Linked DNA regions of Homo sapiens: region 2 is linked to region 1. The links come from fine-mapping of genetic effects on gene expression. Tissue or cell type: whole blood. Region 1 holds a variant in brackets; the other region holds the start of a gene. All regions are shown on one strand. Distances are between the middles of the regions.

Region 1 (8,260 bases):
ACACCAACAAACCAAAAACTAGCCGGGGGTGGTGGCACATGCCTGTGGTTCCAGCTTCATGGGAGGCTAAGGCTGAGACAGAGACAGAAGGATTGCTTGAGCTCAGGAGGTCAAGGCTATGGCAAGCCATGTTAGTGCCACTGTACTCCAGCCTGGATAACAGAGCAAGCCCCTGTCTTAAAAAAAAAAAAGTCGATGCCCTGGAAGAGGTTCTTGGTGGGGAGCTTTTAAGATGTCTCTCCTTAATCCACAAAATCTAAAGCTTACCTATGTCAGCCCTTTTAGGCAGAAGGGCTGTATTTCTGCCCCTAATGATCTCTTTTTATTTCTGCATTTTTCTTTTAAATGGTAAATTTTTGTGAAAGACCTTGCCTGTCTTAGCTATGCTCTGAAAAACCAAGAGAAATGACTCTATAAACAAAATTGGCCCAGAACTTTTAAAAGAGGGTCAGAGGTGGCCAGGCACGATTGGTAATGCCTGTAATCTTAGCACTTTGGGAGGCCAAGGTGGGTGGATCATCTGAGGTCAGGAGTTTGAGACCAGCCTGGCCAACATGGTAAAACCCCATCTCTACTAAAAATACAAAACTAGCCGGGTGTGGTGAAGCATGCCTGTAATCCCTGCTACTTGGGAGACAGAGGCAGGACAATCACTTGAACCTGGGAGGCAGAGGTTGCAGTGAGCCGAGATTGTGCCATTGCACTCCAGCCTGAGCAACAGCAAAACTCGGACACACACACACACACACACACACACACACACACACACAAGAAGAAGAAGAAAAAAGAAGAAAAAAAAGAGGGTCAGAGGCTTCTCACAATAAGAAACCCACATGGGGAAGGTAATACCCAGGGGTCAGAGTTCAGTCATCACTTCCTCACCTGGAGATTGTGGATTTTGTTTTGTTCAAGAGATGAGGTTTCAAGCATATTCAGAATCAGACTCCCAAACCCACAGCAAGGGCAGGTAAGCACCTGCTAAATAAATGTACCTCTCTGCTGGAATGCACTCTCTGGCCTTAGAGAGTACATTCACATAGTCCACACAAATATATTTATAATACGTGCTTTGTGTCAACACTGCACTTAGTGCTGGGGGCCATACCAACAAAGAAGATGGGGTATAAAGTAAAAAATAAGCAAGACAATGACAGAGAATTAGAAATGCTATGAAAACAAGCAGAGTACGGGGTAGAGAATGACGGGGCAGGAGAGTTAGTAAAGACCATCACAGGGCCGGTTGTGGTGGCTCACACCTATAATCCCAGAAACTCAACAGGCTGAGGCAAGAGGATTGCTTCAGCCCAGAAGTTTCAGACTGTCCTGGGCAACACAGGGAGAGCCACATCTCTACAAAAATTAAAAAACACACACACACAAAAAAAAAAAACGTAGTTGGGCATGGTGGCGCATGCCTGTAGTCTTAGCTATTCAGGAGGCTGAGGTGGGAGAATCCCTTGAGCCTAGAAGTTTGAAGCTTCAGTGAGCCGTGAATGTGCCACTGCACTCCAGCCTAGGCAACAGAGAAAGACTTTGACTCTGAAAATTTAAAAAAAAAAAAAAAAATCATCATGGGGAAGTGTCAGCCACAAGGCTTACAGGAAAAGAGTGTTCCAACCTGAAACAGTATTAAGTCTGTGAGGCAGGGATGAGTTTGGCATATTCCATGTTCAAAGAATGGAGAGAAGCCCACTATGCCTGGAATATGGTGAATGAGAGAAGAATGGTAGGAAATTAAGTTGGAGAGACAGCATGAGGCCTAGTAGATGATGTTGAATGAATATAAGGCTCCATAAGCCACAGTATGAACTACGGATTTTATTGTTAGTGTAATGAGAGGTGACAAGATCTGGTTTGCCCTTGAAAAGATTACTCTGACAGTTGTTGTCAACAGACTGTATGGGGACAAGAATGGAAGCAGAAAGAACAAGGAGAAGGCTGCTGTAGTCTTCAGAGAATAGATGATGGAAGCTTGGACTAGGCAGGTTGTCAGTGGAGATGGAGAAAAGTGAATGAATTTGGAATTATGTTCCGGCAATAGGTTTGACATCTGATTTCTTAGACTGGATGTGGGGGTGGGAGTGAAGGAAGGAAAGGAGTCAAGGATAACTCCTAGGTTTTGAACTTGAACAAGTGAATAGATTAGAACTAGGGGAAGATAGCCTTGGAGGAAAAATTAAAGACTTTTCGTTATGTGAGTGTGAGTAGTCTATCAGATATATAGGTGGAGATGAGTTGGAGATTCAGATCTGTCAGTCACTTGAAGCTCAAGGGGGAGGTCAGAGCTGGAGATATAAATGGGGAATCATTGGTATATCAATCATATTGAACACTGTGGGGCTGGAAGAGATTGCCTAGCGTAGATGAAGAAGGAAAGAGGTTCAGAGACTGAGCCTTGGGACCCTCCCAATTTTGAAGTCAGGCAGAGGAAGCGAAGTTGAATATAAAACAAAGTGAGTACAGGGTGGAACTTCTGGCCAAGGCAGAGTGAGGAGATCTCCTGCAGAAGCAACAATAAAACAGGACAAAACTGACAAAACCGGACAAAACTGACAAAACCAACCACTTCAGCACTCTGGAAGTTAACCAAAGGGACTTAACAATCCGAGAGCAATTTTGTGCTTGCAAAACTGCTGAACTTCAGGTAAGAACAGTAGGAATCAGCGGCTTTTTTTTTTCCCCAGATGGGGAAAAACAAACAAACAAACAAAACCTCAGGGTTTCCCAGGCTGCAGTGCCCACACTGGAGTGCAGTGGCATAATGTCAGCTCACTGTAGCCTCAATTTCCCAGGCTCAGGTGAGGCTGCTCTCAGCCCTTCCTGCAATCGGTGTAGAAACTCTGGCAAGAAGGTGCTAGCCATGAAAACAAATAGCTTCCATACAGAAGGAAGGAAATCACTTGATTTCCTTTACATGTAGCAATATTGTTGATGGAAATGATGATCTCCAAGGCAGTAAGCAGGAAGAGTGAAAGGCTTCACTGGCCGGAGGTGTGCTCATGGTTGGGGCAAGTGTGTTCCTGGCTGAGACTGTGTGACAGCGGAGACCTGAGAGGGCCCAAGTTAGCCACATACTCATGGCCACCCTGAGGCTGCGTACACACACAAAAGAGATGCAAAAGGACCTCGTGGGAAGGGTAGATCTCAAAATGACTTGAACTTTGATTATGCTTCCCTACCAACACACAGATCCAACAATACAAAATCAAGGGCTTATAGGCTCCAGGTGTTTAGAACAAGATCTTGTTGAATCCCTAGTTAATCTGACCACTAAGCAACATAAACACATTAAAGTAGAAATTATAAAAGGGAACCAAATTGGGAATGTTTGCTTTTAAAGCCTTTGCCCACCATGTAAGCAGTCTGACTGCTCTGAGGCCACCAAGCTGTGAGAAACCCCAGACTATTTCATGCATCAAGACCACATGGAGAGTTCCTGACACCACATGAAAAGAGAGATGTCTGGCCAGCCCCCAGAGGCTCCACCCCGCTGTTGTTTCAGCTCTAGCTCCCAGATGCTCCATTTCCCTGCTGTTTCAACTTGAGCCACCATCTGACTGCAACTGCATAAGAGACCCTGAATCAGAACTATCCAGCCAAGCCTTTCCCAAATTCCTGGCCCACAAAAACTGAGAGGTTTATGAGGTTGGAGGAAGCTAAGGCCCACAGAGGGAAAAAAAAAAAAAA[C/AC]TTGGATAAAATTGTCAATTAGGCCGGGTGCGGTAGCTCACGCCTGTAATACCAGCACTTTGGGAGGCAGAGGCGGGCGGATCACGAGGCCAGGAGTTCAAGACCAGCCTGGCCAACATAGTGAAACCCTGTCTCTACTAAAAATACAAAAAAGTTTAGCCCCAGGGCATGGTGGCAGGTGCCTGTGTCCCAGCTACTTGGGAGGCTGAGGCAGGAGAATCGATTGAACCCAGGAGGCGGAGGTTGCAGTGAGCCGAGATCATGCCACTGCACTCCAGCCTGCGCGACACAGTGAAACTGTCTCAAAAAAAAAAAAAAAAAAAAAAGTCAATTAGCCGGGTGTGATGGTAAGGCACTTGTAATTCCAGTTACTCGGGAGGCTGAGACAGGAGAACTGCTTGAACCCGGGAGGCGGAGGCTGCAGTCAGCCAAGATTGCGCCATTGCACTCCAGCCTGGGCAACAGGAGTAAAACTCTGTCTCAAAAAAAAAAAAAAATTGTCAAAATTCTGAGATGGCAGCCTGACTACACATCCTTTTTGCCATGATATCTGCACACAACTTTAATCCAACTACCAACTATCTCTCCAGGGTGCAAAAGATTTGATATGGAAAATGAGGTGCTTTTCATTCATTCACTGGAGAGGCAGGGCGTGGTGGCTCAGCCTGTAATCCCAACACTTGGGAAGGCCAAGGCAGGTAGATTGCTTGAGGCCAGGAGTTTGAGACCAGCCTCGCCAACATGGCAAACCCCCGTCTCCACCAAAAATAAAAAAATTAGGCAGGCATGGTGCTATGTGCCTATAATCCCAGCTACTTGGGAGGCTGAGGCACAAGAATCACTTGAACCCAGGAGGTGGAGGTTGCAGTGAGCCAAGATCGTGCCACTACACTTGAGCCTGGGCGACAGAGTAAGACTCCATCTCAAAAAAAAAAAAGAAAAGAAAAGAAAAGAAAAAGAAAATCACTAGAGAGGCTGAAAGTATGATACTAGGTTGGGCCTCCAGAAACATCTCCAGGAATAATGCATACATGTTCCAATAGGTGACCTACAGTCTCTGAGGCTCCTTCACAGCTCTGCTGGAAGCAAGATGCTTTGACTGTAACAACTTCTCTCTCAACCTATGAAGCTGGACAACGGATGCTGGAAAACTGATGTAGTTCCATGACCTTTTTTGACAGCAACAATAGCCAAGAGGCACAGAAGTATGGTCTTTACTGCATTTCTGCATTCTACATCCTATGAGATGTTACGTATTCACAGGATTTAATTTATATCCACATGATAGCCAAGTAAAAGATGTATGGGGCAGAGGCTGAGAGATGCCATCTAGAGTATGAAGCACAGGGCTGCTTTTCACAGGGTCGATGAAGTAGGAACACAGAGAACTTTTGTGGGACAGCAAGATAATTAATAAACTTAACAAATTTAAGGGTTGGGTGTGATGGTTCATGCCTATAATCCCAGCACTTTGGGAGGCTGAGGTGGAAGGACCGCTTGAGCCCAGGAGTTCAAGAACCAGCCTGGGCAACATAGTGGGACCCTGTCTTTACAAAAAACCAAAAAAGATTAGCTGAGTGTCGTGGTGCACACCTACAGTCCCAGCTACTTGGTAGGCTGAGGTGGGAGGATCGTTTGAACTTGAGCCCAGGAGGTCAAGGCTGCAGTGAAGTGAGCTGTGATCACACCACTGCACTTCAGCCTCCATCCTGGGTGACACTGCAAGACCTTGTCTCAAAATTAAAAAAAAAAAAAAGAAAGAAAGGAAATTTAAGCCAGGTGTGGTAGCCTGCATGCACTTGTAGTCCCAGCTATTCAGGAGGCTGAGGTGGGAGGATCATTTGAGCCAGGAGTTCGAGACCAGCTTAGACAACATGGTGAAACCCCATCTCTATAAAAAACTACAAAAAATTAGCTGGGTATGGTGGTGCACACTTGTTATCCCTGCTACTCAAGTGGCTGACGTGGGAGGATCACCTGAGTTTGGGAGCTCGAGGCTACAATGAGCCAGGATTGCACTGCTATGCTCCAGCCTTGGTGAGGGAGTGAGACCCTGTCTCAAAAATGACTTGCTATTCCTTAGGCCTACATGTGACCTTAGAATCTACAATTGAGCTCTGTATAAATTCATCAACTGGGCCAGGTGCGGTGGCTCACGCCTGTAATCCTAGCACTTTGGAAGGTCGAGGTGGGTGGATCACGAGGTCAGGAGATCGAGACCATCCTGGCTAACATGGTGAAACCCCATCTCTACTAAAAATACAAAAAATTAGCCATGTGTGGTGGCGGGTGCCTGTAGTCCCAGCCACTCAGGAGGCTGAGGCAGGAGAACGGCGTGAACCCAGGAGGCGGAGCTTGCAGTGAGCAGAGATCATGCCACTGCACTCCAGCCTGGGCTACAGAGTGAGACTCCATCTCAAAACAAAACAAAAACAAAAACAAAACAAAACAAAACAAAAAAATTCGTCAACTGACTGAAGGTGATCCTTAGGAAGATGAAACCTATTTACTACCCAGCTTATTAGGAGGCAAAGGGTTTTTAGGTATAGCTATAGTCAGAAAGCAGAAAATAAAAGATCCTAGGGCTGGGTCAGTGGCCCACGCCTGTAATCTGACACTCTGGGAGACTGAGGCTAGAGGATTGCTTGATGCCAGGAGTTTGAGACCAACACAGGCAGCAAAGTGAGACCTCATCTTTACAAAAAAAATTAAAAAATTATCCAGGTGTGGTGGCACACGCCTGTAGTGCTGGTTACTAGGGAAGCTGACATGGGGGAAATCACTTGAGTCTAGCAGTTCGAGGCTCTGGTGAGCCATAATTGCGCCACTGCACTTCAGCTGGGTGACAGAGCAAGATCCCCCATCTCAAAAGCAAAAACCCCTCAAACAATCATAGGAAAGGGAGGTTGGGTATAATCTACCCATGGATGAGAATGGTTAGACAATGTAGTATTTTAATGGGCAGTATGGCCTAAAAGAATGAACAAGACGGTCCTATTAAGTCTACTTAGCACTGGTACTTCCATTTTGTGAGTCCATACTGTGTTTTTGTTTTTAATTTAATTTTTTAGAGTCAGAGTCTCATTATGTTGCCTAGGCTGAATTCAGACTCCTGGCCTCAAGTGATCCTTCTGCATCAGCCTCTCAAGCAGCTGGGACTACAGGTGTGGGCCACCATGCCTGGCCAAATCCATACTGCTGATGGTCTCAAGAAGCTCAAATTTCTATCCAATGAAAAGGGCATGAAGAGGCCGGGCATGGTGGCTCACACCTGTAATGTCAGCATTTTGGGAGGCCGAGGCGGGCGGATCACCTGAGGTCAGGAGTTTGAGACCAGGCTGGCCAACGTGGTAAAACCCCATCTCTATTAAAAAGTGCAAAAATTAGCCAGGTGTGGTAGAGGGCTGGTAATCCCAGCTAACTCAGCAGGCTGAGGCAGGAGAATCGCTTGAACCCAGGAGGTGGAGGTTGCAGTGAACTGAGATTGTGCCATTGCACTCCAGCCTGGGTGACAAGGGCGAAACTCTGTCTCAAAAAAAAAAAGCTGCGTGCAGTGGCTCATGCTTGTAATCCCAGCATGCCAAGACTGCGCCACTGCACTCTAGCCTGGTGACAGAGCAAGACTCTGTCTAAAAACAAAAACAAAAACAAAAAAAGGCTGGGTGCAGTGGCTCACGCCTGTAATCCCAGCACTTTAGGAGGCCAAGGTGGGTGGATTACCTGAGGTCAGGAGGTCAAAACCAGCCTGACCAACATAGTGAAACTCCATCTGTACTAAAAACACAAAAAATTAGCCAGGTGTGGTGGCGCATACCTATAATCCCAGTTACTCGGGAGGCTGAGGCAGGAGAATTGCTTGGATCTGGAGGCAGAGGTTGCAGTGAGCTGAGATTGTGCCATTGCACTCCTGGGCAACAAGAGTGAAAATCCATCTCAAAAAAAAAAAAAAAAAAAAAAAAAAGAAAAAAGAAAAGGCATGAAGAAAGCAAATGTAAGGGTACTGATGATCTGCTACTAATAAAACAAACAAATGGAAATTCTGGAGTTGAAATTATAATACAATAAATTTGCTGGAGGAGCTCAACAGCAAGTTCAAAATGGCAGAAGAATCAGTGAACTTGAAGATACAGCAATAGAAATAGCTGATCTGAAGAACAAAGAGAAATAACATTGAAGAATAATGAACAAAGCTTCAGAGATTATGGAAAAACTTCAAGCATACTAACATATGTGTAAGGAGAGCCTCAGAAGAAGAGAGAAGAGAGAGAGAGTAGAAAAAAATATTTGAAGAAAATGTCCAAAAACCTCCCATATTTGATGAAAAACATTAATCTACACATTCCAAAATCTCAAGGAACCCAAACTAGGAAAAATGTGAAGAGAGCTACACCTAGACACATCACAAACTGTTGAAAGGCAAAGACAGAAAATCCTGAAAGCGGTGAGAGAGAGAGAAAAATGACTCATCATGTACAGTGAAATAATTCAATTAATGACAACTTCTTATTTGAAAACAATTAAGGCCAGAAGGCACTGGAATGACATATTCAAAGTGGTGAAAAAGAATAAAAAT
Region 2 (8,000 bases), 51 kb before region 1:
AGCACAGACGCACAGGCTGCCCAAGGGCTACTGTCAGCTCCTGCTCTTGCTGCTCCAGGCTGGGAGCCAGGCAGGGCTCTGTGGGCAGAGGGCAGAGGTCAGCAGACCCCGCAGCCCCATCTGAGGCAGCCTCCTGTGTACAAAGAACACACCGCACATGCAGGGCACAAGCACTTTGCAACGCATGCTGAAGGAGCCACCACTCCTTGACACCCACACAGCCACATGCTGCGGATGCCACACCCAGGGCAAATGCCACACTCTTGGGGCATGTCACACACACAGCATTTAGTGCACACGACAGTGGCCAAGACACACACACACACACACACGCATACACACACACACATACGGACACACACACACACAAGGCACATGCTGTTGGTGCCACATACAGGGTCATGCTGCACCGGGGCATATCACCCTCATAATGCTTATACCACACATGCTGCCTGGACCTCCTAGGTCACACACCCAGTGCACAGAACACACACACACACGCACACACACCCAGGTAAGGAGCTCACCACCAGCTCTGCAGCCCAGCTTAGGGCCCTGCGCCCTGCAAGGCCAGTCCTCTCTCGCAGACACAGTGATAGATGAATGCTTGCTGGAAGCCAGGCACTGACTGAGTCTCAGTGGTTGAGCCCTGCCCTGCCGCCACCTTCTCAGGGCCTGGGCAAGGATCCTTTCCAGCTTTGCTCAGCCCAGCAGCCCCCTCCTGGTGCCCACTCTTCCCACCCCTGCCACCCTCTCCCACCTCAGAAGCCATACCAAGCTCCACTTCCTCAGAGGCCTCCAGGGACAAGACTGGAGGCCCAGGCACACTCAGCAGGACCCCCAACAGGGCCAGCAGCAGCCGCATCTCCTTCTCACAGCTCTCAGGGACCCAAGCTGGACTTCCCACCAACTGCCTTCCTAAAATAGGGAGGGAAAAGAGCTCCTGCTACACGTGCACCTTTGTGGGGGCTTTTCCCTTATTTTGCAGATAAGGAAACTGAGACAGGAAGTGGCCAGCAGATGTGTCCAAGTCCCTGGCCAGGCTGTGGCAGTGCAGACTGGAACCAGCTCTGTAGTAGCCAGAGCCTAAGGCCTCCCCACGGTAGGTTGTGCAAGGGGTCTGGGCTGGGCTTCCTGCTCTCCCTGAGTCCTGCTGGGACCCTGGCACACGTTCACAGAAAGCAGTTTTGGGATTCTTTTTTGGAGGGAAGCAGAGAACGGAGACATATCTTCTGCATGCTCTCGGCACACATAATTTCTTTTTTGCTAAATAAATGAATTGATTGCAGAAGAGCCAAAAAAGAAAGTGAAAAATGACACAAGGTCAAACTTCAGCATCTGGATGGCATCTGATCCGATCCCCACTCCTTACAGCATTACTGACATTTCCAGGGCTGGGTGGTCACAACTGACAAGGCGGCCCCTTCCGTGGCAAGCAGGACCGCGACCCTGGATACCTCTGCTTGTTATGCACCAACTCCATCTGAGGCACACACGGTTTTGTAAAGAATACAGACCCTAATTTTCCATCTGCCAGAGCCAAGTTCAAATCCTGACTCTCACCAACTTGTAATTCCTTGTCTCTGTCTCTCTCTGGCTTACTATCCTCATAGGACTGTTTTGAGGATAAAAGAGAGAACGTGCGTCGGCACGCAGAGTGTTGGAATGTTCTCCTCCCTGTGCCCGGCCCTAGAACGGTTAACCTGTTGCCCTGGGTCTGCCCTTAGCCAGTCACCTCTGGTTCGGATGCTGTTACTGTCAGGCTGTGATGTACACACACCCCAGCTGGCTATCCTCTTCCAAATGCTACCAAGGACGCCTCTGTTCCCCAAAATAGAACACTCAGAACTGAGTCTCAGCTGGGACAAAGGAATCGGTGACCACTGCAGTCCTAGGGGCCTATGGGTGGCACTGGTGTCTCTGGATCTACCCTGCGTGGGAAGCCTATCACACCTCCTCCTCCTTGGTCACTGCCACTCCACTTCCAGTCCATCTGGCTTCCCCTGCCCCTTCTCAAGGCAGGTCATGGCCATCTCTTGCATGGGCCTCTGGAAACATCCTCTCCCTCGGCTCTTCAACCTTCATCTTCCAGCAGAGTTTTAAAAAACTACAAGTCGGCTGGGCGCGATGGTTCACACCTGTAATCCCAGCACTTTGGGAGGCCGAGGTGGGCGGATCACGAGGTCAGGAGATCGAGAACATCCTGGCTAACACGGTGAAACCCCGTCTCTACTAAAAATACAAAAAATTAGCCGGGCGCGGTGGCGGGCGCCTGTAGTCCCAGCTACTCGGGAGGCTGAGGCAGGAGAATGGCGCGAACCCGGGAGGCGGAGCTTGCAGTGAGCCGAGATCGCGCCACTGCACTCCAGCCTGGGCGACAGAGTGAGACTCCGTCTCAAAAAAAACAAAATAAAAAAATAAAATAAAATAAAAAAACAAACAAAAAAACCTGCAAGTCTGCCATGTCATGCCCCCCAGCTTGCAAGCCCTTAATGGCTACCTGTGCCCAGCAGGATCCAGCTCAACATCCTAGGGCTCCCTCTCTGCCGCTGCCTATCTCTTTGGTCACACCGTCTGCCCCTTCAGGAGCGCTGAAGCCATTGGCTTTCAAAACTGGGCACATGTGCTCTCTTGCCCATCCCTCTGTGCCCCTCATTGCTCTTCTCTACCTGACTCAGATACTGCTGTCTCTGGCCCACCTCAACTCTCGAATCCAGTCGGATCCTCCTTGGTAAAACTCCCTACCAAGCTCGGCTTGGCAGGGAGGGCAGCTCTTTGGGTACACAGCTTGGGCTGGGAGTGGGTGGGGAGGCCCGGGGAGTTTATTCCTACCCCAGGCTGCCCTGATATCAGAGTCCTTAGTCGAGTCACCCATGGCTGCTGACCGCTGACCGACCACCCCCCACGTGGGAATGGAGGGCCTGCCTTAGGCATCAGACAGTCCTGGGTTCTCCTTCAGCCTCCCGCACTCGCGCTGGAGGCCCCCGGGCACTAAGTGACTGAACTTTTCGGGGCCTCAGGTCCCTCATCTCTGCCGCCGGCGCGAAGACAGCCGCAGGGACAAGCGCGCTTGTCCTCCCCCACCCTTGCCGGGCCAGCCTGGGGGGAGGTGCGAATCAATGGGTCCCGAGGGTAGCTGCACAGGGCCAGCCTGCCCCCGCCTCGGTGGGCAATGAGTAACCAGCTCCGCGGCCGGGGTGCTCTTTGGACGGAGCGGGACAAAAGGCCCTGTGTGCACTGCGGGTTACTGATTTACCGCCCCCTCCACCCCCTGCCGCCCGGCGGACGCCCAGGTCCCCTGCGCCGGGAGGGGCAGTCCCCGTAGCCCCGCCGCCTCTCGCCCCCTGGCGGCTGGGAGCGCAGCCCGGGCCCACAAGGGTTCCGGCTCACCTCGAGCCTGCGTGACTCCGCGCCCAGCACAGGGTCCTGCTCACCTGGCTCCTCCTCACCTGGCTCCTCCGCCGCCTCACTCCCAGCTCCAGCCGGCCGCGACCCCTGCACGCGGCAGGGTCCGCAGACAGCCCGAGCGCTCCTCGGCCGGGAGCGAGGAATGTACCCGCGACGGCGGCGTGGCCGCGAGCGGCCCACCTCCTGTCCCACCCCGCCCCTCGGGCCCGCCCCCTCCTGCTCGGGCCCGCCCCTCCTTCCACGCCCCCCCCCCCCCCACCCGGGCCCGCCCACCTCCTGCCACACCCCCTCGGGCCCGCCCCGCCTAGACCAGCTCGAGCCGGAGAGAGGTGTGGCCAGGGGTGGCCAAGATCCCCGCCCACCTGGAGAGCCCCGCCCCCGACCCAGTCAGCCCACTCCCGGGACCCCGCCCCAGCCTATACACACACCCCTACACGCAACCCCCCTATACACACCCCATTCAGGCTCCGCCTCTTTCGCCCCACCCAGGCCCCAGGCCAGGCTCCTAAATTCTAGTCTACTACCCAGCTCTACTCCTTGCTTTTCACCCTTCAGGGAATGCCTGGCTCCCCTGTCTTCTGCGCAGTGCCGTGCAGCGGATAGGAGAACCCCTTCCTTCTGCTCCCTCATTTGTTCCCTGCGCAACCTGCGGAGTGATACTTACAACACAAATCTGACTGTGTCAGCCACTCCCTTAAATTTTCCTATAGATTCCCATAGCTCTTTATACATAGATTGCCATGACCCACGCCTCCTGGCTCCCACCCTGCTACTCCTGGGCAGTTTCACGTACCATTCTCTCTTCCTGGAATGGCCCTTGGTCTGGTTAATTTCATATTATTCTCAGCTCACTTCCTTCAGGAAGCCCTCTGGACTTGCAAGCTCCTCTTAGATGACGTCTCTACTGTGAGGATGGAGAAAGAAACAGGGTGAAGTGGTTCAGAGCACAGACTACAGGGCTGGACGTCATAGGCCCAGCTCTCAGCACCATCACACAAGGCCTCAGTCTTCACTGTCCTTTCAGTAAAACAGGCAAATGATAGTCTCACCCACAAGAGGTTGTTGCAAAAAGTAGACATGTTAGCAGTATGTGTAAGCCTGGCATGCAGCGCTTGCTTTGTAATACTAGCTGTAATTATTTAGGACCTGTTATTTCTTCAGCACGCTTGCCAGAATTGTAACTGAACAGTTAATTATGTAAATAGCTGTGGAATGGCCGGGCACAATGACGGGTGCCTGTAGTTCTAGTTACTAGGAGACTGAGGTAGGAGGACAGCTTGAATTCAGGAGTGTGAGGCCAGCCCTGGCAACATAGTTGCCCTGTCTCTATTTTTCAGTAGAGGAACTGTGTCCTCAGACCTCACCATTAGAGTTCAAGTGTCTGGCATACAGTAGGTGCTCCCAGATAGCTCCGTGCCCACCTGGCTCATGTTTGCCTCACCTGTAAGCACTTCTCTCCTGAGCATCTAGACTGTGGCCAAACCAGGAGGCCAGGCAGCCTCTGATCTCTGCCCATCCCTCACCTGAATCTCAAGCCTTCTCCTTCTCTTAAGGCACCTTGAGAGGAAGGGAAATGGGCTGGGTGCACCTGTGGTCCCAGCTACTTGGGAGGCTGAGGCCAGAGGATTGCTTGAGCCCAGGAAGTCGAGGCAGCAGTGAGCCGTGATCGCTCCACTGCACTGTAGCCTGGGCAACAGGCTATGGAGCGAGACCCTGTCTGAGGCTCAGGTCCTGGTTGTCCCCTCTAGCTAGTGTAGACCCTGTCTTAAGAAGCAACTTCCTTTCTCATTGTTACGCAGGCAAGTCTAGTTCTTTCCACCCTCACTCCCAAAGGGATAGTGGCATATCTTTGCATAACTGTAAGGCCCATTAAAGAGACTTAAAATTGTTTTTTTCTTTTTCTTCTTAAGCGAAAGAATGGTCTCCTCCCAAAGATAAATCAGAAAATAATTGAGGCCAGGCATGGTGGCTCATGCCTATAATCCCAGCACTGTGGGAGGCTGAATCGGGAGGATCGCTTGAACTCAGGAGTTCGAGGCCAGCCTGGGCAACATAGTGAGATCTCGTCTCTATTAAAAATATATATTAGGCTGGGCACGGTGGCTCACGCCTGTAATCTCAGCACTTTGGGAGGCTTAGGTGGGTGGATCACGAGGTCAGGAGTTCAAGACCAACCTGGCAAGATGGTGAAACCCCAGCTCTACTAAAAATACAAAAAAATTAGCCAGGCATGGTGGCATGTGCCTGTAATCTCAGCTACTAGGGAGGCTGAGGCAGAGAATTGCTTGAACCCGGGAGGTGGAGGTTGCAGTGAGCCGAGATCGTGCCATTGCACTCCAGACTGGGTGACAGAGTGAGACTTTGTCTCCAAAAAAAAAAAAAAATATATATATATATATATATGTGTGTGTGTGTGTGTGTGTGTGTGTCTGTGTGTGTCTGTGTGTCTGTGTGTATATACATACACACAGACACACCCACACATATATATGTATATTATAAATTTTTTTTTAATTGGTTATCTTTTAAAAACAATTTGTCCTGGTTCCCTTCTCTAGAGTCCTGCCTTGCTGGAGCTCCCAGGACAGATGAGGCTCCTGGCCCTGGGAGCTGCCTGCCCAGAGGGTACCTTGCCAGACCTCCCGGACTGCTGGAGGGGTTCAGCTCCCTGCCTCTGGCCCTCTGCTGGCTCCCCTTGTGAATGTGGTTGTGGGGGGAGACAGGGTGAGCCGCCAGCTGGAGCTGGACCCCACATGGCTTTCATTCACCTTCCCGGGCATTTCCTGAGTTTACCAGAGCCAAAGACAAACTAAAAGTTTTCATAGCTCAGGTCTTGCAACCTCCTTGTCTCCTGAGATGCGCAAATCCCTCAGATTTGCAACCCTCTGATGTCCCTAGGATATGTTCCCCATATCCCTTGTCTGCCTCCTCTCCCCGCACTCATAACCTTTCACACTGACCCTCCACAGAGGCTGATGCTCCCTCACAAAGTCATTCACTCATTCACTCATTCATCTGAATGATTATTTATTGAAGGTTCATTATGTGGCATCCACTGTTTTAAATCCTGGGGATAAAGCCCCGAATTGGACTCTTTTTCTTTTCTTTTCTTTGGGAGACAGTGTCTTGCTCTGTTGTCCAGGCTGGAGTGCAGTGGTGTGATCTTAGTTCACTGCAAGCTCTGCCTCCTGGGTTCAAGTGATTCTCCTGCCTCAGGCTCCTGAGTAGCTGGGATTACAAATGTGCACTACTACACCTGGCTAATTTTTATATTTTTAGTAGAGACAAGGTTTCACCATATTGACCAGGCTAGTCTCAAACTCCTGACCTCAAGTTATCTGCCCATGTCAGCCTCCTCAAATGCTGGGATTACAGATGTGAGCCACCTCACCTGGCCTGGACCCTACTTCTACCCTTCAAGGGGCTGCTGACATTGTAGTGGGGACAGACAGATAAGTAATCAGTTACAGCCTGGGAGATAAGCTGAGCCAGTCAGGGAGAGCACCTAAGCCTTTCACACTGTCTCACTCTCTTGCTGACACGCAATCTTTCACCAGTCACATTTGCAGTCTCTTTCTCAAAGACATTCAGACACGACTGGGCACAGTGGCTCACTCCTGTAATCCCAGCACTTTGGGAGTCTGAGGTGGGCGGATCACTTGAGGTCAGGAGTTCGAGACCACCCTGGCCAACATGGTAAAACCCCATCTCTACTAAAAATACAAAAATTGGCCAGGCATGGTGGCACACGCTTGTAATCCCAGCTACTGGGGTGGCTGAGGCAGGAGAATCACTTGAACCTGGGAGGCAGATGTTGCATTGAACCAAGATCACGCACTGCACTCTAGCCTGGGAAACAGAGCAAGACCCTGTCTCAAAAAAAAAAAAAAATACATTCAGACACACACACACACACACACACACACTCTCTCTCTCTCTCTCTCTCGCTTAGCAGAGGCAAGAGCCTGTCACCCTAAGATCCTGCTGTTAACCTGCCTCTGCCTCAGTTTCCCCACCCAGAAAGCCGTCATGCTCCAGCTTCCTCTTCTTCCTTTTTTTTTTTTTTTTTTTGTGGAGATGGAGCCTCGCTCTATTGCCCAGGCTGGAGTGCAGTGGCGTGATCTTGGCTCACTGCAACCTCCGCCTCCCAGGCTCAAGCAATTCTCCTGCCTCTCCTGCCTCAGCCTTCCTAGTAGCCGGGACTACAGGCGCCTGCCACCACACCCAGCTAATTTTTGTATTTTTGTAGAGACGGGGTTTCACCATGTTGGCCAGGCTGGTCTCGATCTCCTGACCTCAGGTGATCCACCCGTCTCGGCCTCCCAAAGTGCTGGCATTACAGGCGTGAGCAACGGCTCCCGGCTGCTCCAGCTTCTTTCTTCCTAGGAGTGTTGGGGGAAATGAACGTGTTCCTGTTCCTGAGCTCGTGACTCTTCAGCTCCCGTTACATGCCAGGCATCATGCTGGGTGTTGTACATGGGTTATATCCTTTAATTCTTCCACCAAGCCAAATGGCATAGGAATCCTTAGCTCTGATTTGTAGGTGAAGAAACAAGCTCAGGGAGATGGAATTACTTATTTGAGGTCATCTA

The links. PIP is the estimated chance that this variant, and not a neighbour inherited with it, causes the effect.
Region 2: FGFR4 starts here. The variant in region 1 is fine-mapped to the expression of FGFR4 in whole blood (INTERVAL, PIP above 0.99). The same link has a PIP of 0.9 or more in prefrontal cortex.

The regions. Positions count from the first base shown.
Region 1 is chr5:177,031,387-177,039,646 of GRCh38, reverse strand. All of the region lies in intron 1 of ZNF346 (zinc finger protein 346), which reads right to left. Among named protein-coding and RNA genes, the nearest start is that of ZNF346, 13 kb to the right of the region's middle. RefSeq lists a silencer at 908-957. The variant C/AC (reference allele first, on the strand shown) is at 3,688.
Region 2 is chr5:177,082,468-177,090,467 of GRCh38, reverse strand. FGFR4 (fibroblast growth factor receptor 4) reads right to left here and starts at 3,553. Exons shown (of 18, transcript NM_213647.3): 1 at 3,391-3,553; 2 at 775-918; 3 at 1-78. The coding sequence starts at 865. RefSeq lists an enhancer at 3,037-3,487, silencers at 3,183-3,642, 3,893-3,942 and a promoter at 3,453-3,672.